Regions from separate parts of the Homo sapiens genome. Here region 2 is linked to region 1. Evidence: fine-mapped expression QTL. A gene starts in region 1. The other region holds a variant in brackets. All regions are shown on one strand. Distances are from middle to middle.

Evidence for each region. PIP is the estimated chance that this variant, and not a neighbour inherited with it, causes the effect. A credible set is the group of variants that fine-mapping cannot tell apart.
Region 2: its variant is the best candidate, but not a certain one, in a credible set for the expression of LINC00562 in whole blood (TOPMed, PIP 0.76).

The regions. Positions count from the first base shown.
Region 1 is chr13:47,926,529-47,937,913 of GRCh38, forward strand. It overlaps LINC00562 (long intergenic non-protein coding RNA 562), which reads right to left and starts at 6,094. Exons shown (of 1, transcript NR_047492.1): 1 at 3,625-6,094.
Region 2 is chr13:47,970,434-47,981,818 of GRCh38, forward strand. It overlaps SUCLA2 (succinate-CoA ligase ADP-forming subunit beta), which reads right to left. Exons shown (of 11, transcript NM_003850.3): 5 at 2,831-2,959. Among named protein-coding and RNA genes, the nearest start is that of SUCLA2, 25 kb to the right of the region's middle. The variant G/A (reference allele first, on the strand shown) is at 5,986.

The DNA of each region.
Region 1 (11,385 bases):
TTGCCATAACTGACCTTAAGGGTAAGGAGATTCTCCTATATTTATAGACTAAGACTGGAGACATGACTGGTAATCTCCAATAAGAGTGCTTTTAAAGATAATCTAATTTTAAGCTTTGAGGTAGCATAGGATGAACCCTATAAAATTCATTTTTCTTTTCTCAAAATAATGGAAGAGCCTTTTAAAACCTAATATCTCATCAATATTACCGCATTATAGAGCTAATGCAATCCTGATAGCTTGATCAAAAAGACAAAATACAATAGAAAAATTAAGGTATTATATGAAGGAGAGAAGACATTGAAGATAATTTAAGGCCTTGAAGTGAATTAATCAGTTTAATTTAAAGCTGAAGAATAAATCATAAATTATTCACCTGAAATGCAAGCAGTATGCTTTTTCAGCTTCTGTTCTGTGGATAAAACAATAGAAGAGAATATTCTTATCCTTAAGAAATACTCAAAGCATTTAGGGAGAAAGAGCCATGATATATGTAGCTTACTCTCAATTGGTTCAAAAAACATCATGAAGAAAGAAAGAGAAAGAGAGAGCAAAAGATTAAGCAAATGGAGTGAAATGTTAAGAATAGGCAAATTTGGGTGAAGGATACATGACTATTCCTTGTACTATTTTTATTTTAGCAACTTCTAGTAAGTTTGGAATTATTTCCAAATAAATTTTTAAGTCTTTTAATACTAATATTCCAGGCCAGATTAAACAAAAGATTCAACCAATGAAATACTAACCAATAATTCCTTTGTGCTGTCAAATTGAAGACGTACAGTTTGTTGGGCCACTTGTGGTTTTCACAGATCATTTCCCATGTATTTGGCAGCTAGTGGATTTATTTGCCACCATTAGATGTAGAAAATCTAAAGTACCTTTGGAAGACAAGGTTGAAGCTCAGAAGAAATGATTAAGACTCCAAGTCCCACAACAAGTGGTTACAAAACAAATTTAAATTCACCTTACAGGTGTGAAGTGTAGAAGTAAGTGTCCTTTCTCTATTATGCTGTCATTCAAGAATAACTACTCATAAAGATCCTTTGAGCCCTGGGCCCTACTGGCTGCCTGGAAACTCAGAAATGAATGGAGGAACACCACTACCTTCATATTTCATCACCTAGTCCTCCTCCCTGCTTCTATCCTAATGTTCCATTTCTAGGCTAGTGTCCCTGGGCACATGGTACCTGCTCACAAGCCACAGTATCTCACCTCTCCACGTGTGCTCAGTCCCTCCAGCCTACCTGTCCCCACCTGGTAGATTCCTACTCCTGCTTCAAGATCTGGCTTTGAAAGCCTTCCCTCTCTCCACACCATCTCTTCTCCCTCAGCACCCTGAATATACCATTGTGAAAGCTACAGTCTAGTAAAAGGGCAGCGTGTTTTTCCTGTATTTCCCTCGAAGCTCCTTAAAGGGCAGAAATCATGCCTCAGTCATCTTTGCACTCCCTATTTCCAACTAAGTGTCTATTTTGTTTAACCAAATGGAACTGCAAGTCTTTTGCTGTAGCCACCAAAAGTCCTTTTGTTGAAAGAAGAATATAAATAAAACTGAAATATGAAATAGATTGAGTTACGAGGTAAGCAGTAGCTCTACCTCTCAGAGAAAGAAACGATCCCTCCTGCAGACGCCCTTTTGCTGGATCTTAGGTGTGTCACCATAGAAAATAAGGACAGAACCTTTAACCCATAAAGAACTATTTGGTTTAAGTTGAGGAAAATAAATCTCTGATGCTGTCTTTCAGGGTGATAGAGATTTCCATATGAGAAAAAGCAGCTAATTCCTGGGCAGTTAATAATAGCACTATCTTGTCTAAAAACGGCAAAAGCAGTATCCTGGCCAATGCCGACCTAAGGTGACAGCTTATAGTAAAATGAAAGCAAATTGTAAGCACAAATCTTACTCTGCATAAGTTATTTACTACCCAGATATGTATTCTTTGCTGATTAAAGGTACAGCATCAGTGAACTACTGGAGTTATTTTTAGCCAGAGACAGAAGAGATTTTTTAATCCTTGAAAATTAAGGGGCAAGATGTTCCTTACACTATGCTGCCTCTAGGGAGTTCATGTCTCATTCCTTCTCATAAGGTCTGATATTCTTTCTACTCCCATGCAACATTAACAGCTTTTCTGGAATATGATTATAACAGCACTATCTTAGTCCATTTGTGTCGCTATAAAGGAATACCTGAGACTGGGTGATTTATAAAGAAAAGAGGTTTATTTGGCTCATGGTTTTGCAGGCTATACAAGAAGCATGGAGCCAGCATCTGCTTTTGGTGAGGGCCTCAGACTGCTTCCACTCATGCTGGAAGGTGAATAGGGGCTGCATATGCAGAAAGCACATGGCAAGAATGAAGCCAAAAGAGAGAAGGGAGGTGCCAGACATTTTTTAACAACAAGCTCTCAGGCTCTCACAGGAACTTATAGAGTGGGAACTCATTCATTACCTCAAGGATAGTACCAAGTCATTCATGAGAGATTCCTCCAAGACCCAAATACTTCCCACGAGGCCCCACCTCCAACCCTGAAGATCAAATTTCAACTTGAGGTTTAGAGGGTCAGATATCCAAGCTATAGCAGCACCATCCCATTATACATTTGGTATCTATGTCCTAAACCAAAACTCCCTCCAGCTTTACTGTAGTTTACTAAGTTGTATATTATACTTTATGTGGGATTTTCTCACTGCCCCCTAACATGGAGCATAGAATCTACTGCTGGAGCAATTTCCTCCAAATACTTTTCAATTTGGTGGCTTAATGGGTATGCTTATTGCACCTCCTCTGCAGACTCAGAGGTACTTGGAGTCTGGCCACTGCTCGTGCCAATGACAAAGAATGCTTTAGCTCTGAAGTCAGAGCTCAGACCATGAGAGTAAAACCTATGTATTAGCAGAAGAGAAAAGCAAAAAGAAAAACAAAGAATAGAAAAGAAAGGCAGGGAAATGAAGGGAAGCAGGGAAGAGGAATAAGTGAAACGAATCCCAGGAGTGGTAAGGCACAGTGGGCGCCACCAGGAACTGCCCTCCGATCTAGTTCTCCTAACATGCAGAAAAGGATCCTTTGTAGATTGAACTCACTATTCTTCCAGCAACAACTATCTGATGTCAGAAATTCTAAAGCCTAACATCACTTCCACTTTAAGACCAGCAAGGTATGGAGGAGGTGGGTAGTAATAGAGTATGAAGAACATGAGGCTGGGCACTGTGGCTTACACCTGTAATCCCAGCATTTCGGGATGCTGAGACAGGAGGATGGCTTGAACTCAGGAGTTCTAGACCAGCCTGGGCAATATAGCAAGATCCTGTCTCTACAAAAAAATACAAAAAAAAAAAAAAAGAAAGAAAGAAACAAAAAACATAAAATTTGAAGGCAGAAGGCCTGGTTCAGGTCATAGGCTATGACACACAGGGTAAGCCACTTCTTAACTTTTTCATCTCAGCGTCCTTATCTGTTAAATGGTGATGATAACACCTGGCACACAGGATTGTTGTGAGCATCAAATGACTGCACATGAAAGGGTAAGTTTCTATTTCAACCGTGATGGAGAGATGGTTAACATGCCTGCACTTCATAGATTCTGAGAACTAAAGGACAAATACACCCAACAAGCAAAATTCGAGGTGCAATTGCTTTATTAGATGATATCCAAGTACTCGTGTATCTACACATATTTCTCTATATCAGCTAACAAAATGGGGAGCCTTAAAAGAAACACAAGTATTTTTTTCAAATATTTGAAGGGTTCCCAGAAAGAAGGATTAGCTATTTCCAAACTGGTTCAAATATAGAACCTTAGTCAGACTAGCAGGTAAAAGCTACAGGGAAAAGGATTTGGGATCAGTATAATAAAGAGCTTTCCAATATTTCAAACTGTTTAAAAATGAGACAACTCCCCATAAGGAGATGAGTTCTCTGATAGTGAAGATGTTTAAGTTGAAAGGAATGACCGACTGTCAGGATATGTTAAACGTTGGGTGAGGTGCAAGTTGCATGAGGGGAGGGGGTGTGTGTCTGTTTTGTTCACTGCTATTACCCCGTGCCTAGAACAGTGCCTAGCATGTGGAAGACTCCCAGATACAATAAATAAATGAGCAAACTGGGCATGGTGGTGCATGCCTGTAGTCCCAGCTACTTAAGAGGCTGAGACAGGGGCATTGCTTGAGCCCAGAGGTTTGAGTCTAGCCTGGGCAACATAGGGAGACCCTGAGAAAGAAGAAAGCAAAGCAAAGCTAAAAAAAAAAAGAAAGAAAAGGAAGGAAAGAAAGGAAGGAAAGAGAGAAAAATAGAGAGAAAGAGAAAAAGAGAAAAGAGAGAAAGGAAGGAAGGAAGAAAGGGAAGGAAGGAAGGAAGGGAGGGAGGGAAGGGAAGGGAAGGGAAGAAATGAGCATATCCTGTGATCACTTTGAATCTAAGCCTATAATTTTATGATAGATGTTCAACAATTCTTAGTTCTGTTGAGTCTGTGTCCGCTCAGCAGCTCAGCTGGGCATCTCAAAGGTCAAATCATTTAAATATTTTCTCTGAGTCAAATTCACAAACACAAGAGTTGATTCTACATCTGCAGACAAACAGGTACCAGAAAGCCCTACCTCACTGTTACACACTAAGAGTGTGGAATGAACAGCAGGTGAAATAGCCAAACCTACACAAATCAACCAACAAAATCAAATGGGAGTTGAGGAGAGGCGTAGGTGTTACTCAGGTATAGTGCCAAGTGGATCTGAGGACAAGAATGTTCTCCTATGCATCTCTGTATCCTTAATACTAAGCACAGTGCCTGGCACAAAATAGATGCTCAAAAACCATTTGCTGAATTCAACTGAACTGAAATTTATGTCTGACAATTATTAACTATTTGCCTTTTCATTTCGTATGAGGTTCACGATTCATTGTTATATATTTATTCATACATTGACTTGGATTTAATTGCTTATATCTCCCCCACTACATTACAAACACCATAAGGGACCATGTCTCCTATTGATCATTGTATACCATGTAGCCCTGGTACATTGTGTGGCACATAGGAGGTGTGCACTTAATATTTGTTGAATGAAGTGAATAAATACTGGAAGTGGATCTCTAAAATAACTGTGTACTTGAAAGAATTCTAGAATCATAGAATCTTTCTAATCCTTTTAGTTATTATTTGTTTATTATCAAGTCTTCCCATTTAGACTGAACCATTTAAGAAATGAAGCAATTTAATCTAGATAAAATAATGGTAATGCAATAGTAATATCAGAATATTTCTTCTAAATTGATGGTCAAAAATGCTCATGAGAGTCCCCAGAAACACTCAGCTTCAAGTTTTGTTTTTTCTTTTTTTTTGAGACGGAGTCTTGCTCTGTTACCCAGGCTGGAGTGCAGTGGCGCTATCTGGGCTCACTGCAAGCTCCGCCTGCCGGGTTCACGGCATTCTCCTGCCTCAGCCTCCCGAGTAGCTGGGACTACAGGCGCCTGCCACCACGCCCAGCTAATTCTTTGTATTTTTAGTAGAGACGGGGTTTCACTGTGTTAGCCAGGATGGTCTCGATCTCCTGACCTCATGATCCACCCGCTTCAGCCTCCCAAAGTGCTGGGATTACAGGCGTGAGACACTGCGCCCGGCCTCAGCTTCGAGTTTTTTAGGGAAACATTTTACTGGCCAACACTCCCATTTTCAAACAGACTTCACAGTCAATCCAGAGGCTGCAGATAACTAACTTAATCCTCTTCTTTGGGCTATATAACTGGGTTTGTCTTTTTTTTTTTTTTTTTGGCACTTCTACTGAAGGGCATACTAAGCAGAGAAAAGAAATCCAGTCAAACCATAAGCATGAATTTTGGCAGCTTTTATAACAGCCAAGCCTAGTGAACAGTTAGTATTTGGTGACTCCAATGTTGTCTTTCTGGACCTTTTCCCACCCAGTCATGGAGATATCCCTCCACCCAAAGCTGCTCCATTCATACCTAAGGCTCAAATGGCTGTGAAGACAGTGTTTGTTACCGGTCTGCAATAAGATAACTTACATCAGAATATAAATGAAAGCACTGAAGCTTCCTGCATTGGAAAAGTCTTGCTACCTTGCTACCAAGATAAAAATATATTTCAGATGAACTAAATAGTGTGCTTCATGACATAATTGACTTAAATCCTGGCAAAAGATCCTTACCTGGTTGCAAGTCAGGAACAAAGAGCTTCAGAGACTGGCGCTTTGAGCAGCATTCTGCTAAGCCATAAAAAGATATCTCCTCCTGCATATCTGCATTTTAAAGGACAATAAGAAGCTTCAAACTGAAGGAATCATTCCCTAAGCACAGGTTCTCACAAACATAGGGATATTATGTCTCGAACAGGTGGACATGGTATTTGGGGTTTAGAAGGGAACCACTGAAATGAGGCATCCTGCCATAACCAGATCTAGTACATAACACATGCATAAAACGGTATCAATTCCTTTTCTCCTACATCCTGACCCAATCCAATTTTTTTTCAAAGGAACACATGCATTAGAATCACCTAAGAAATTTATTAAACATGCCTGTTGCCAGGCCAGCTGAATTAGAATAGCTGGGTATGGGCCTAGGAATCTGTATGCTTAACAGGCATCCAAAAGATTTATGTACACTGAAATCTGAGAACCACTGCATTAGATCAGCTGAGGCTACAGAAAAGATCTTTGCAACTGCAAAGGAAACAAAAATAAAAGTCCAAAGTGAGCACCAAATAGGAACTTTTGTCCCTGCCACAGATATTTCAGAAAGCAAGTGAATACAGCATAGCCGATCAACTGATGCAAGCACCCCCTACACCACAAATAGGCTTTGCCCTATAGCATTTGCCAGTTACTGTTTAAGCAAACCATTGTTTAACTGCCATTAACCTCATAGGATTATTGACACTGGGTATCCATTTCTCAAAGAGATGTCAGATATTTGACTAGGTTAAATTGAGAAACACTGGATTCTTTGGCTTGGTTTCGTTTTGTTAATGGAACTTCCTCACCTCAGAAACAGCATGTAAGTCAATTAGCCTTTTTCTAACTAAGGAAACAATGGACTTTATTCACATGGTATTTCACTCACAAGTCCCCTAAATTACTGGCTTGCCAAACCCTGCTCAAGTAAGCAGGCTGAGTGACAATAACAAAAGCTAAATCATTTGGCATTTCAGTGACAATGTATAACAGTGTATAAATTTTTTAAATCCCCTTACTGTTCTGCCTTCTCAGCAATGACACATCTACAAAATGGGCACTAGGCCAAGTACCCTACCACAAAACAAAATCGTTGCCTGTTGTGGTATTAATGTTCAGTGAAGCAACTGGTCTCAGTACACAGTCAAGTAAACAGGCATCAAAGGGTAGAACCTAACTGTTAACCCAAAGTATCTGAGACGGGTCTCAGTCAATTTAGTAAGTTTTTCTTTTGTCTTTTTGGCCAAGATTAAGGAGGCACCCGTGACACAGCCTCAGGGGGCCCTGACGACATGTGCCCAAGGTGGCTGGGGTACAGCTTGCTTTTATACATTTTAGGGAGACATGAGACATTAGTCAACATGTGTAAGATGTACATTGGTTTGGCCAGGTAAGGCGGGACAACTCAATGTGGGGGCTTCCAGGTTAGAAGTAGATAAAAGACATTAGGGTGCATTCTTTTGAGTCCTGATGAGCCTTCCACTCAATACACAACTTAGTCTGACTCAGTGAATCTGCATTTTTACATAAACAATAGGGCAAAGGAAGCAATCAGATATGCATTTGTCTCAGGTGAGTCTCAGAGGGATGACTTTGAGTTCTGTCTGTCCTTTGTCCACAGTGAATTTCCTTGTGGACGAGGATCTGTGGCAAATTGCGAGGGAGGTATGTAGCTATGTTATTTAGGAATAAAATGGGAGGCAGGTTTGCCTGACATAGCTCCCAGTTTGATTTTTCCCTTGGCTTAGTGATTTATTTTCCTTTCACATAACCACAGAGGAGAATGCCATGGAGAGGGGCAATAACAGGCACTGAACATCAGGAATGCTGGCAGGCGAGTCAGATATGGCTCCAAGTCTGTTCAGTGGTCTCCACAAGGCTTCCACAAAGGCCAAAGGTTTCATGCTGACGTATGATAACAAACACAAGAGAACCAACAGCCTGGGCAAATTAAATCTACGGTTTTTTATGAGCTAGTCCATAATGAAAAGTCTCTCACAGACTGAAAAAATGTTCCATATCAATCGAATCACAATATTTAAGAAAGCCATGACCAATTTGCTTAAGACTGCTCCTTCAGCTGCCCCTCTTCAGCATCCCTCCCAGAGGAAGAAAAAGCATTAGACAAAAAGATTCAGATCAACACTGCCCCCCTTCAAGAGAGTCATGGCACACCAGACACAAAGCAGTGAATCACCTGTCATTTGTTTCCAGTTCTTCCTCATCAGCCCACAGTCATACATCTGGCATCAAATAGTATAGCTTTTACTTTTTTCCTAGTAGAATCAGTGTCATTCAATTGCAAGTTGAAAGTTAGGAAAATGGAAAGTTCAATTTTTCTACAAATAAGCAAGGATAACTTTGACAGGCGCTGCAACACTCTCTGTCATGGTTTCAACAGATCTCTTTCCTACCTCCTACTTTAAGTAAAAGTTAAATAAAGAGTCTCCCTGTATGTGCCAGTTTCATATACACGCAAGAACATACAGGAAGTTAGTATATGATAAAGATGACATTTTAAAATTGGTGGGAAATAGATCAAATAGGGAAAAGTAAATCCCTTAAGGGATAAGTAAATGGTGTTTGGGAAACAGATTAGGCATTTGAGAGGGGAAATTTGCATTCATAACTCAAGTTCAGACTTTGTAACAAAACAATTAAGCCTTTCAAAACATATCATGAAAACTAGAAACCACAAAGACTAATACATTTCATTATATTTAAAATGACATATGACATATATATAAAATACATAATAGGCAAAAATGGTTAATCTCAAATATACAAAAAGTTATTAATACTAGGAAGAATGAACAGTCAATAGAAAAACAGTCAAAGAACATGAAAAGGGCTGGGCGCGGTGGCTCACGCCTGTAATCCCAGCACTTTGGGAGGCTGAGGCAGGCGGATCACGAGGTCAGGTGATCGAGACCATCCTGGCTAACACGGTGAAACCCTGTCTCTACTAAAAATACAAAAAATTAGCGGGGCGGGTGCCTGTAGTCCCAGCTACTCAGGAGGCTGAGGCAGGAGAATGGCGTGAACCCAGGAGGCGGAGCTTGCAGTGAGCCGAGATCGCACCACTGCACTCCAGCCTGGGCGACAGAGCGAGACTCCGTCGCAAAAAAAAAAAAAAAAAAAAAAAGAACATGAAAAGGAAGTCACACGCTGACACACACAAACACACACACACATACACTTCCACAAATGCCCAGTCAACAGATGAAAGCTCAATCAACATTAAACAGGACATGGTTTTTGCCCATTGGAATTAGCAATACAATGTTATCAAGTATGGAAATATTATTGTGCATTATGAATGGAAGAGTAACCAAAAGAGACTTTCTGGAAAGCGGTTCATGCTTTTACACAGCTATTCCACTTACAGGTTTTTACCCTAAGGAGAAATTACCCATGTGCTGAAAGACATATGCACCAGAGTGTTCACCTATTATTTATAATGTTAAAGACATATAAACCAAATGTCAATAATTGCAAGGCTAGGTTAAATAAACCATGATATACACATTCTCTTGTATGTGCAGCTATTAAAAATTATGTAGTCCTATATTTGATGCCATGGAAAGATCCTTATTTGAAGAAATGCAGATTATAGAACATTATGTTTATGATCCTATTTATATAAAAGTGTATTCATATCTATCCACATATGCTCATATTTAGAGACGACCAGAAGATTGTTTACAAAACTGTTAACATTAGTTATTTCTGGGTTCTGGCACTGCAGGTGATCTTTACTTGTCTGCACTTTCTTGTATCATTCCAGTTTTGAAGGGGTTTATTTTTTCAATGAGTATGTGTCATTTTTACTAAAACAAAGATATTTTTTCTAAAACGATGCTGGTTTCATCAAACAAGGATATCAAAAACAAATAAAAAGATGCTTCTCTGCTTTAAGAACAAATCATAGGAATAATCATAAAGTAGTTGAGGCTTTTCTCCAGTTTCCTTCATATTACATGCTCAGCTGGTCACTCTGGAATTGTCACTCTCAACTGATGAACTGCAGGCTCTCAACTGGTGGTCAATCAACTCCTATTGAAGACATTAATAGATGTTAGTGTTTAGTTGGTGATATGGTTTGACTGTGTTCCCACAATTCTCATGTGTTGTGGGAGGAACCTGGTGGGAGGTAATTGAATCACGGAGGTGGGTCTTTCCTGTGCTGTTCTCGTGACAGTGAATAAGTCTTGTGGGAGCTGATGGTTTTTTGGTTTTTGCTTTTTGGGTTTCTTTTTTTTTTTTTTTTTTTTGAGATGCAGTCTCGCTCTGTCACCAGGATGGAGTGCAATGGCACAATCTCGGTTCAGTGCAACTTCCACCTCCCGGGTTCAAGCAATTCTCCTACCTCAGCCTCTGGAGTAGCTGGGATTACAGGCACACACCACCATGCCTGGCTAATTTTTGTATTTTTTTTTCAGTAGAGACAGGGTTTCACCATGTTGGCCAGGCTGGTCTTGAGCTCCTGACAATCAGGTGATCTGCCTGCATTGGCCTCCCAAAGTGCTAGGATTACAGCTCGTGAGCCACTGGTTTTATAAGGGGGAGTTTCCCTGCACAAGCTCTCGCTTTGCTTGCTGCCATCCATGTAAGACATGACTTGCTCCTTCTTGCCTTCCACCATGATTGAGGTCTCCCCAGCCATGTGGAACTGTGAGTCCATTAAAACTCTTTCCTCTATAAATTACCCAGTCTCAGGTATGTCTTTATTAGCAGTGTGAAAATGGACTAATATAATTGGCAACAAATGAACCAGGAAGCTTAGGCCACTCCTGGCCCTTTCAATACTTCTCCCAACTTGCTAAACTTAGTGATTTCTGTGTTACTGTATTAGTGCTGACTAGACTCTAGGGCACCCAACAGTCATGACTTCTTTAGTTAATGGCAATTGTTTCGCAGATTTACATAGCTATGAGTACCATAATGTTAATCACAACTACTCAATGCTGAGTCTCTTATCCCTAGACATTTGTTTATAGCTTACTTCCAATTTGTGTTTATATCTTCACAAATTGGATGTGATGGTGCTTTTTTCAGTCCTGCTCAAAATGTTATCTGTGGACTGATGCCAGTCCACAAACAGATCACAAATCTGCAAGTGATAAACAGATATTTTAAAATATTTAGAAACTTCTACAGCAGTTTGAAAGAGCAATTTTATCCTGTAGAATCAAA
Region 2 (11,385 bases), 44 kb after region 1:
TCATCATCTTCACGTAACTACCTAATAAATCAAATCCATGCCTTTTAAACATTTATATCATTCATTTGCCAAAATCAATTTGCTTTATTCTCCATCAGAAACATTTATCTCCTTAAAACTTTGTGCCGGTCAAAATTCTTGCACTTGGCTGGGCACGGTGACTCACGCCTGTAATCCCAGCACTTTGGAAGGCCGAGGTGGGCAGATCATGAAGTTAGGAGTTTGAGACCAGCCTGGCCAACATGGTGAAACCCCATCTCTACTAAAAATACAAAAATTAGCTGGTCATGGTGGCGGGCGCCTGTAATCCCAGCTACCTGGGAAGCTGAGGCAGGGGAATCGCTTGAACCCGGGAGGCAGAGGTTTCAGTGAGCCAAGATCATGCCACTGCACTCCAGTCTGGGCAACAGAGCAAGACTCCGTCTCAAAAAAAAAATAATTCTTGCACTTGCTGTACTTCAATACCACAAACTTATTCTGACATAGTTTTCTCATTAAGAAATGTTTAAGGAGAATGGTGTGAACCCGGGAGGCAGAGCTTGCAGTGAGTCAGGATCGCGCCACTGCACTCCAGCCTGGGCGACAGAGCGAGACTCCGTCTCAAAAAAAAACTAAAAATAAAAATCAATAATAAAAAAAAAGAAATGTTTAACTTCGAAGTCCAATATTCAAATTCTTCTTTTAAGGTGAGTCATTAGGCCAGGCGCGGCGGCTCACACCTGTAATCCCAGCACTTTGGGAGGCCCAGGCAGGCAGATCACTTGAGGTCAGGAGTTCTGGAGCAGCCTGCCAATATGGTGAAACCCTGTCTCTACTAAAAATACCAATGAAAAGTTAGCTGGGCATGGTGGTGCATGCCTGTAATCCTAGCTACTTGGGAGGCTGAGGTGGGAGGATTGCTTGAACCCAGGAGGCGGAGGTTGCAGTGAGCCAAGATTGCGCCACTGCACACTCCACCCTGGGCGACAGAGCAAGAATCTCCATCTCAAAAACAAACAAACGAAAAGATGAGTCACTTATTTTTATATCCAAAGCAAACAATTTAATTCGATAGCAGCATTACAAATATTACCAAGCAACTCTCACAGGCCTTAATATTAAACTCAATGGGGGCTTTTTTTTAGTGGGGGGAAGAATGGAGGGGAAGCAGCACACAAGGACAATAGAGAAAACCAGTAAAACTGTAGGCAAAATTTTATTGTGAACACATACAAATTGAAAGAATTGAAAGAAGGACCACAGCGTTCATCGAATTCTTAAAATCATTCATAAACCACAGCTCTATTATGGAGATATATAAGACAGTGTCCCATCCATTCTACACAATTTACAGAAAATAAAGGGGACACAGGAATATTTTAAATGTTTAACCACTTAAACCATGGAGATATAAAATCCAGACTACGAAAAACAATGAATAATAATCACCTCAGTTTCTTCAACAACTGAACTGAAAGAAAAAAGATGACAGCAAAAAAGAGAAACCTGTAAGTTATAAAAGACCTATGAGACTTATCAGTCAACAACAATGAAGGGACCGGACGCGGTGGCTCACGCCTGTAATCTTAGCACTTCAGGAGGCCGATGAGGGTGGATCACCTGATGTCAGGAGTTCAAGACCAGCATGGCCAACATAGCAAAACCCCATCTCTACTAAAACAAAATACAAAAATTAGCCGGGCATGGTGACGTGCGCCTGTAGTCCCAGCTAGTCGGTAGGCTGAGGCAGGAGAATAGCTTGAACTCAGAAGGCAGAGGTTGGAGTGAGCCAAGGTGGCAACACTGCACTCCAGCCTAGGTAACAGAGCAAGACTCCATCTCAAAGAAAATAAATAAAATAACAATGAAGAACCGTATTTGGATGCTGACTCAAACAAATTGTAAATGAAAAATTGATTTGAAACAACTAGAGAAATTTGAATGACTAAGTGATGATACTAACAAATTATTGTTGGCTGGGCGCGCTGGCTCACGCCTATAATCCCAGCACTTTGGGAGGCCGAGGCGGGTGGATCACCTGAGGTCAGGAGTTCGAGACCAACCTGATCAACAAGATGAAACTCCATCTCTACTAAAAACAAAAAAATTAGCCAGGTGTGTTGGCAGGTGCCTGTAGTCCCAGCTACTTGGGAGGCTCAAACAGGAGAATTGCTTGATCCTGGGAGGCGGAGGTTGTGATGAGCCAAGATGGCGCCACTACACTCCAGCCTGGGTGACGGAGCAAGACTCCGTCTTAAAAAAAAAAAAAAAAGAAAGAAAGAAAAGAAAAGAAATTATTGTTAATTTTACTAGATAGGGTAATGGTATAGTGACTCTTTTTTTTTTTTTTTTTTGAGATGAGTCTCACTCTGTTGCCCAGGCTGGAGTGCAGTGGCACAATCTCGGCTCACTGCAACCTCCGCCTCCTGGGTTCAAGCGATTCTTCTGCCTCAGCCTCCCGAGTAGCTGGGACTACAGGCACGCACCACCATGCCCGGCTAATTTTTTTTGTATTTTTAGTAGAGACGGGGGTTTCACCATATTGGCCAGGCTGGTCTCGAACTCCTGACCTCATGATCCGCCCACTTTGGCCTCCCAAAGTGCTGGGATTACAGGCGTGAGACACCGTGCCCGGCCAGTGACTCTTTTAAAAGAATCCACATTGAAATATTTATAGAGATATGAAAAAATTGTAAATAATTCCAAAATGAGCTATTTCAAACAAGTTATTAACTTTCCTGACACTCAAAATGTTTAAATAAGTTTTGACAATTACTTCAGTTGTACGGTTATCTTTAAGTATCATAATTCTCTAATCATAAGCTAGAAATTTTTCAGGAATACAACATACCTGGAGAGCTTGTTCCTTTTTGATGCCTTCTTCAATATCAATAGGTTCTTTAATTATTGCTTCAGGAGACTCAGCAGCAACATCTTCAATGTTGACACCACCATGTGAACTTCCTATTAATACAGGACCCTGGCAAGGGAAGTAAACAACCAAAACTCTAGATTTATTTTAGACTCATCAATGAAACTTTAAAACCTACCCGTGCATAATATCAGATGTAAGCATCTATTACTCTCTACCCACATTTTAAAATTTTCTTGAGAATTTATCCTCACATCTCCAGCACAGTGCCCTCTTATAAATATTCAATTAAAGCAATGGATAAAAAAGTAAAAAAAGAAGAAAATAATGGCTTGCCTGCAAGGAAAATAGATTTAAAATATACACAAAAACTTATACCACAATAGCAACAACTTGGAACCAACCCAAATGCCCATCAATGATACACTGGATAAAGAAAATGCGGCACATATACCATGGAATACTATGCAGCCATAAAAAAAGAATGTGTTCATGTCCTTTGCAGGGACATGGATGAAGCTGGAAACTATCATTCTCAACAAACTAACACAGGAACAGAAAACCAAACATCACATGTTCTCACTCGTAAGTGGGAACTGAACAATGAGAACACATGGACACAGGGAGGGGAACATCACATACCAGGGCCTGTCAGGGGGCTGGGGCAAGGGGAGGGATAGCATTAGGAGAAATACTTAATGTAGATGACAGGTTGATGGGTGCAGCAAACCACCATGGCACATGTACAACTATGTAACAAACCTGCACTTTCTGCACATGTATCCCAGAACTTAAAGTATAATTAAAAAAAAAAAGAAAAAAAACTTAACACCAAATATGTAAACATATGTATGTGAAATATAACCTATGCATTTTTCATAAAAACTGAGGGGACATTAAAAGTATTGCTTAAAGCATAAACACTAGAAAATCCTGAAAACAGATATTTGAAAGAAAAAGCCTAAGAAAAGGGAAAGTCTAAGCTCTAGCCCTACTGCAAGACAATAAAAAAGAAAGCTGGCCAGGCACAGTGGCTCACACCTGTAATCACAGCACTTCGGGACGCCAAGGCAGAAGGACTACTTGAGTTCAGGAGTCAAGACCAGCCTGGGCAACATAGTAAGACTCCATTTCTACAAAAAATACAAATAAATTAGCCAGGCATGGTGGCATGCCCCTTTAGTCCCAGCTACACAGCAGGCTGAAATGGGACGATGGCTTGAGACTGAGAGATCAAGGCTGCAGTCAGCTGTGATCACACCATGGCACTCCAGCATGGGGACAGAGAAAGACCCTGTCTCAAAAAAAAAGTAAAATACAATAAATAAAAGAGAGAGCTAACTAGTTTGAAAGAATAGCTCTGGCTATTGTCATGAACAATATGAGAAGGTAAGGTATCAATACTAACAATTATTAACATTTAAGGCCTTGAAAATCAATCAAGAAAAAATCATAAATTATCTAATAGATCTACTAATTTATGCATTAAACTAGAAATAATGTTAACATGAAAAAAAGAGAAATAGTAAAACTGCATTTAAAGATTGTTTACTGACAGGAAACTACTGATCTGTAGTGGGTAATGTAGTGTATGTGTACATGTAGTGTTACGTATGAAAAAAATGATACAAAGCCCTAGGTCGTTTTCTCAATTGTATTATTTTTTAACATAAAGTGCGTTTCAAGTGCTCCATATTGACAGAAACAATAAAAGAGTGGGAAATAAAACATTAAAAGACTTTTGTTATTTTAAATGCAACTATTTTCCAAATAAAATTTTTTTACAATGAACATACTACTCTTACATCCAGAAAAAAAAACAGGCATGACAACTTTTTTTTTTAATCAAAAGACTAATTCCACTTTTCTTTCTTTCTTTTCTTTTTTTTTTTTTTATCTGGAGTGTCGTTCTGTCACCCAGGCTGGAGTGAAATGATGCGATCTCAGCTCACTGCAACCTCCGCCCCCCAGGTTCAAGGGATTCTCCTCTCTCAGCCTCCCAAGTAGTTGGGATTACACGCATGCACCACCATGCCCAGCTAATTTTTGTATTTTTAGTAGAGACAGGGTTTTACCATCTTGGCCAAGCTGGTCTCGAACTCCTGACCTTAGGTGATTCACCTCCCAAAGTGCTGGGATTATAGGCATGACCCACCATGCCCAGCCTAATTCCACTTTTCTATCCTAGCACTTAGTGTTTTAGTAACATACTCATTTAAAGTATAAATTAAAGGAATAGGATTGCATTCATTACTGTTTAGAGAACGAAACAGTCCTTCAAATACTTAAAATAAGGCAATAACAAAAATTAAAAAGAAGAATCTATCACTTTTTTAAGAGTGTTAAACTTTTATTTAGGAAAAAAATGATTTTGTACCATGTATTCGATTTCTGTATACATTTGTAACAAGGAATTCGGATGACTTTTGTCCCCAGGGTCTTGGAAGTAACTTCTAAACCCTCCAACCACATCTGATAGTTGATGCGACCAAGGAGCCGCATGGTGGGCCCCTAGACAGTTTACACTAAGGAGATGACTCAGGTGGGCAATGGCCATGCCAGAAAGATTGACAATGTGATTAGAGGTTTGGGGCTTTCAGTCAAATTGTATCAACCCACTCTGCATAGAAGAAATGGGCTAAGTCAACTGCACAGACAATGATTCAATCAGTGATACCCAGGCTGGGTGTGGTGGCTCACATCTGTAATCCTAGCACTTTGGGAAGCCAACGCAGGAGGACTGCTTGAGTCTGGGAGTTCGAGACCAGCCTGGGCAACATAGTGAGAACCTGTCTCTACAAAAATTTAAAATTAAAAAAAAATTTTTGTTTAATGCCTACACCATAGAACCCCAATGAAAACTCTGGACACCAAGGTCAGCAAGATGACAAAATAGGAAGCCCAAGACCTTGCTCCCTGACAAAAACACTGACTTTAGCAACAATATATGATCCAAAAACCTTTTATGACAATGACAGTAACCAATTAGGAAGTCACAGTACCCCAGGTAAGCTCAAAGCCAAGAACATCTGCAATGAAATCAGTAAGAAAAGCCATTTCATTTTATCCACATCAGCATCCTTCCCCCCACCACTCCAAACTAACATAGTTTGGGATTAAGAAGCTTCTCCATT[G/A]GGAGAGAAAGAGAAGAGTAGAACACATGTTCAACATTCCAGCTTCTTGGAGGGCTGTCCAAGGGACTGTTTCCTGTCTCAACTGATATGGGTGCTGATGGGGAACCAGCATACTCTGGATGCCTGTGGGGCATCGAGAACAAAGGAGAGTACACAGGCTCATGGCAGTACCAGAAAATGTGTAACATCCCAGAGGGAAGTTGACACAGCTTGCTACAACTAAGAAAACACACCCAGCTCCTGATTTTTTAACAGGTTGAGTACTCCTCATCTGAAATGCTTAGGACCAGAAGATTTTGGATTTCTTTGAATTTTGAAATATTTGCATTATACTTACCATTGGAGAATCCCAAATCTAAAAATCTGAATTCCAAAATGCTCCAATGAGCATTTCCTTTAAGTGTCATGTCAGTGCTCCAAAAGCTTAGGATTTTATAGCATTTTGGATTTCAGAATTTCAGATTTGGGATGCTCAACCTATATTTATACCACAAGAAACTAGAAAAAGAATAACTAAACCCAAAGTTGGCAAAAGGAAGAAAATCATAAAGATTAGAGCAGAAATAAAAGAAACAAGGAACAGAAAAAAAAAAAATCAACAAAACTGCATATTGGCTCATTGAAAAAGTGAATAAAATTGACAACCCTTTAACTATAAAAAAATAGAAAAGACTGAAATAACAAAAATCAGAAGTGAAAGGAGACATTACAGCTGTCACAGAAAGAGTCTGAGACTGCTATGAAAAATTATGTATCAACAAATTGAATAACCTAGAAGACATTGATAACTTGCTAGAAACAATCTTCAAAATCATAAAGAAATAAAAAATATGAACAGCTCTATAACTAGTAATGATACTGAATCAGTAATCAAAAACTTCTAAGCAACAGGAAGCCCGGGACCAAATGGCTTCACTGGAAAATTCTATCAAACATTTAAAGAACTGAACCAATCTTTCCCAAGCTCTTTTCAAAAAATTGAAAAGGACGGAAAATTTCCATACTCACTCTATGAAGCCAGCATTACCATGATACCAAAATCAGAAGGTATTAAAAGAAAACTACAAGCTAATAGCTCTGAAAAAATAATGATGAAAAAAAAACTCAAAAAATACTAGCAAACTGAATTCAACAACACATTAAAGGGACTTTACATCATGATCAAGTGGGACTTAACTCCTAGAATACAAGGATGGTTCAACATACAAAAATTCAGTGTAATACATGCTATTAACAGAATGAAGGACAAAAACCACAATAATCTCAATTGATACATAAAAGGCATTTAACAAAATTGAATACCCTTTCACGATAAAAATACTCAACAAAGACTGAAGGAAACAACCTCAATATAATAAAGGCCATATAAGAAAACTCATAGCCAACATCATACACAATAATGAGAAACTGAAAATCAATGTGCAAAAATCATAAGCATTCCTATACACAAATAATAGACAAACAAGAGTCAAATCATGAGTGAACTCCCATTCACAATTGCTACAAAGAGGATAAAATACCTAGAAATACAACTTACAAGAGATGTGAAGAACCTCTTCAAAGAGAACTATAAACCACTGCTCAAGAAAATAAGAAAGAACACAAAGGGAAAAACATTCCATTCCATGCTCATAGATAGGAAGAATCAATATCATGAAAATGGCCATACTGCCCAAAATAATTTATAGATTCAATGGTATCCCATCAAGCTACCAATGACTTTCTTCACAGAATTAGAAAAAACTACTGTAAATTTCATATGGTACCAAAAAAGAGCCCATAAAGCCAAGACACTCCTAAGCAAACAGAACAAAGCTGGAGGCATCACGCTACCTGACTTCAAGCTATACTACAAGGCTACAGTAAACAAAACAGGATGGCACTGGTACCAAAACAGATATATAGACCAGTGGAACAGAACAGAGGCCTCAGAAATAACGCCACACATCTACAACCATCTGATCTTTGACAAACCTGACAAAAACAAGCAATAAGAAAGGATTCCCTATTTAATAAATGGTGTTGGGAAAACTGGCTAGCCATATGCAGAAAACTGAAACTGGATCCCTTCCTAACACTTTATACAAAAATTAACTCAAGATGGATTAAAGACTTAAATGTAAGACCTAAAACCATAAAAACCCTAGAAGAAAACCTAGGCAATACCATTCAGGACATAGGCATAGGCAAGGACTTCATGATGACGAAAACACCAAAAGCAATGGCAGCAAAAGACAAAATTGACAAATGAGATCTAATTAAACTAAAGAGCTTCTGGACAGCAAAAGAAACTATCAGCAGAGTGAACAGGCAACCTACAGAATGGGAGAAAATTTTTGCAATCTATACATCTGACAAAAGGCTAATATCCAGAATCTACAAGGAACTTAAACAAATTTACAAGAAAAAAACAACCCCATCAAAAAGTGGGAGAAGGATATGAACAGATACTTTTCAAAAGAAGACATTTATGCAGTCAAAAAACATACGAAAAAAAGCTTATCATCACTGGTCATTAGAGAAATGCAAATCAAAACCACAATGTGATAGCATCTCATGCCAGTTAGAATGGTGATCATTAAAAAGTCAGGAAACAACAGATGCTGGAGAGAATGTGGAGAAACAGGAACACTTTTACACTTTTGGTGGGAGTGTAAATTAGTTCCACCATTGTGGAGGACAGTGTGGTGATTCCTCAAGGATCTAGAACCAGAAATACCATTTGACCCAGCAATCCCATTACTGAGTATATACCCAAAGATTATAAATCAGTATGTTTATTGTGGCATGATTCACAATAGCAAAGACTTGGAATCAACCCAAATGCCCATCAGTGATAGACGGGATAAAGAAAATGTGGCACATATACACCATGGAATACTATGCAGCCATAAAAAGGATGAGTTCATATCCTTTGCAGGGACATGGATGAAGCTGGAAACCATCATTCTCAGCAAGCTAACACAGAAACAGAAAACCAAACACCGCATGTTCTCATCATAAGTGGGAGTTGAACAATGAGAACACATGGACACAGGGAGTGGAACATCACACACCGGGGCCTGTCGGGGGGTGGGGGGCTAGGGCAGAGATAGCATCAGGAGAAATACCTAATGTAGATGACAGGTTGATGGGTGCAGCAAACCACCATGGCACGTGTATACCTATGTAACAAACCTGCACATTCTGCACATGTATCCCAGAACTTGAGTATAATAATAATAAAAATAAAAAAGAAAACTTACAGCCAACATCATACACAAAAATGAGAAGCTGAAAGCTTTTCCTCTAACATCAGAAACAAAGCAAGGATGCCCACTCTTGCCGCTTCTGTTCAACACAGCACTAGATGTCCTAGACACAGAAAACAGGTAAGAAAAATAAAAAGCATCCAAAGAGAAAAGGAAAGGTAAAATTCTGTGTTTGCAGATGAGATGTTGTCATATGTAGAAATCCCTAAAGATTCTGCACACACACAAAAAAAACTCTTAGAATAAATCAGTTCAGCAAAGTTGCAGAATACAAAATCAACAAACAAAAATAAGTTGCCTTTTAATACAGTAACAGTGAACAATGTGAAAAGGAAATTATGGAAATAATTCCAGTTAAAATCAAAGAGAATAAAATACTTAAGGATAGCCTAATCGAGGAGGCATAAGACTTATGAACCAAAAACTACAAAACACTGCTGAAGGGAATTAAAGAAGACACAAACAGGCAGGGCGCGGTGGCTCACGCCTGTAATCCCAGCACTTTGGGAGGCTGAGGCGGGCAGATCATGAGGTCAGGAGATCGAGACCATCCTGGCTAACACGGTGAAACTCCATCTCCACTAAAAATACAAAAATTAGCTGGGCGTGGTGGCGGGAGCCTGTAGTTCCAGCTACTCGGGAGTCTGAGGCAGGAGAATGGTGTGAACCCGGGAAATGCAGGTTGCAGTGAGCTGAGATCATACCACTGCACTCCAGCCTGGGTGACAGAGTGAGACTCCATCTCAAAAAAAAATAAAAAATAAAATAAAAATAAAAAGACACAAACAAATGGAAAGACATCTTGTGATCACAGATTGGAAGACTTAATATTGTTAAACTGTGCATACTACCCTAAGCAATCTACAGATTCAATGTAATCTCTATCAAAATCCCAATGGCTTTTTTTTATAAAAATAGAAAAATACACTAAAATGCATACATAATCTCAAAGGACCCAGAACAGTCAAAACAATCTCGAGAAAAAAAAAGAAACTAGAGGCCTCACACTTCTTTTAAAATATATTACAAGGTTACAGTTATCAAAACAGCATGATAATGCATAAAAAAACAGACATATAGACCAATGGAATAGAACAGAAAACCCAGAAATAATCCCTAAGGTATATGATTAAATGATCTTCAACAATGGTGGGAAAGCTACACAAGAGGGCAAAAAGAACAGTCTCTTCAACAAATGGTGCTAGAAAAATTGGATATCCACATGCAAAAGAATGAAGTTAGACCCTTACCAATACTACTATATGCAAAAATTTACTCAAAATAGATTAAAGACCTAAACATAAAACCTGAAACTATAAAACTCATAGAAGAAAACAGGGAGAAAAAAGTTTATGACATTGGATTTAGCAATGATTTCTTAAACATGATACCAAAGGCACAGGCAGAAAAAAAGCAAAAATTGACAAATGGAACTCTATCAAACTTAAAAACTTCACAGCAAAGGAAATAATCAACAAAGTAAAAAGGCAATCTACAAAATGAGAGAAAATATTTGCAATCCATATATCTAGTTAAAAGCTGAAATTCGGAATATGTAAGATCTTCTACAACTCAATAACCAAAAAAGTAAAAAATAAAAAACCCAAACAAAAAAATTTAAAGATGGGCAAAGGACTTAAATAGACATTTCTCCAAAGCAGATCTGCAAATGGCCTGTAAGCATATGAAAAGATACTCAGTATCACTAATAACGGGGGAAATGCAAATAAAAACCACAGTGAAATATAATCTCACACCCTTTAGGATGGCCACTACCAAAAAAACAGAAAATGAATATTGGCGAGGATGCAGAAAAACTGGAAGCTTTGTCTGCTGTTAGTTGGAATATAAAATGGTACGGCTCAGCTAGGTGCAGTGGGCTCATGCCTGTATTCCCAGCACTTTGGGAGGCCAAAGCAGGCAGAACACCTGAAGTCAGGAGTTCAAGACCAGCTGGCCAACATAGTGAAACCCTGTCTCTACTAAAAATACAAAAACTAGCCGGGCATGGTGGTGCACGCCTGTAGTCCCAGCTACTCAGAAGGCTGAGGCAGAAGAATCACTTGAACCCAGGAGGCGGAGGTTGTGAGCCGAGATCGCACCACTGCACTCCAGCCTGGGCAACAGAACGAGACTCCGTCTCAAAAAA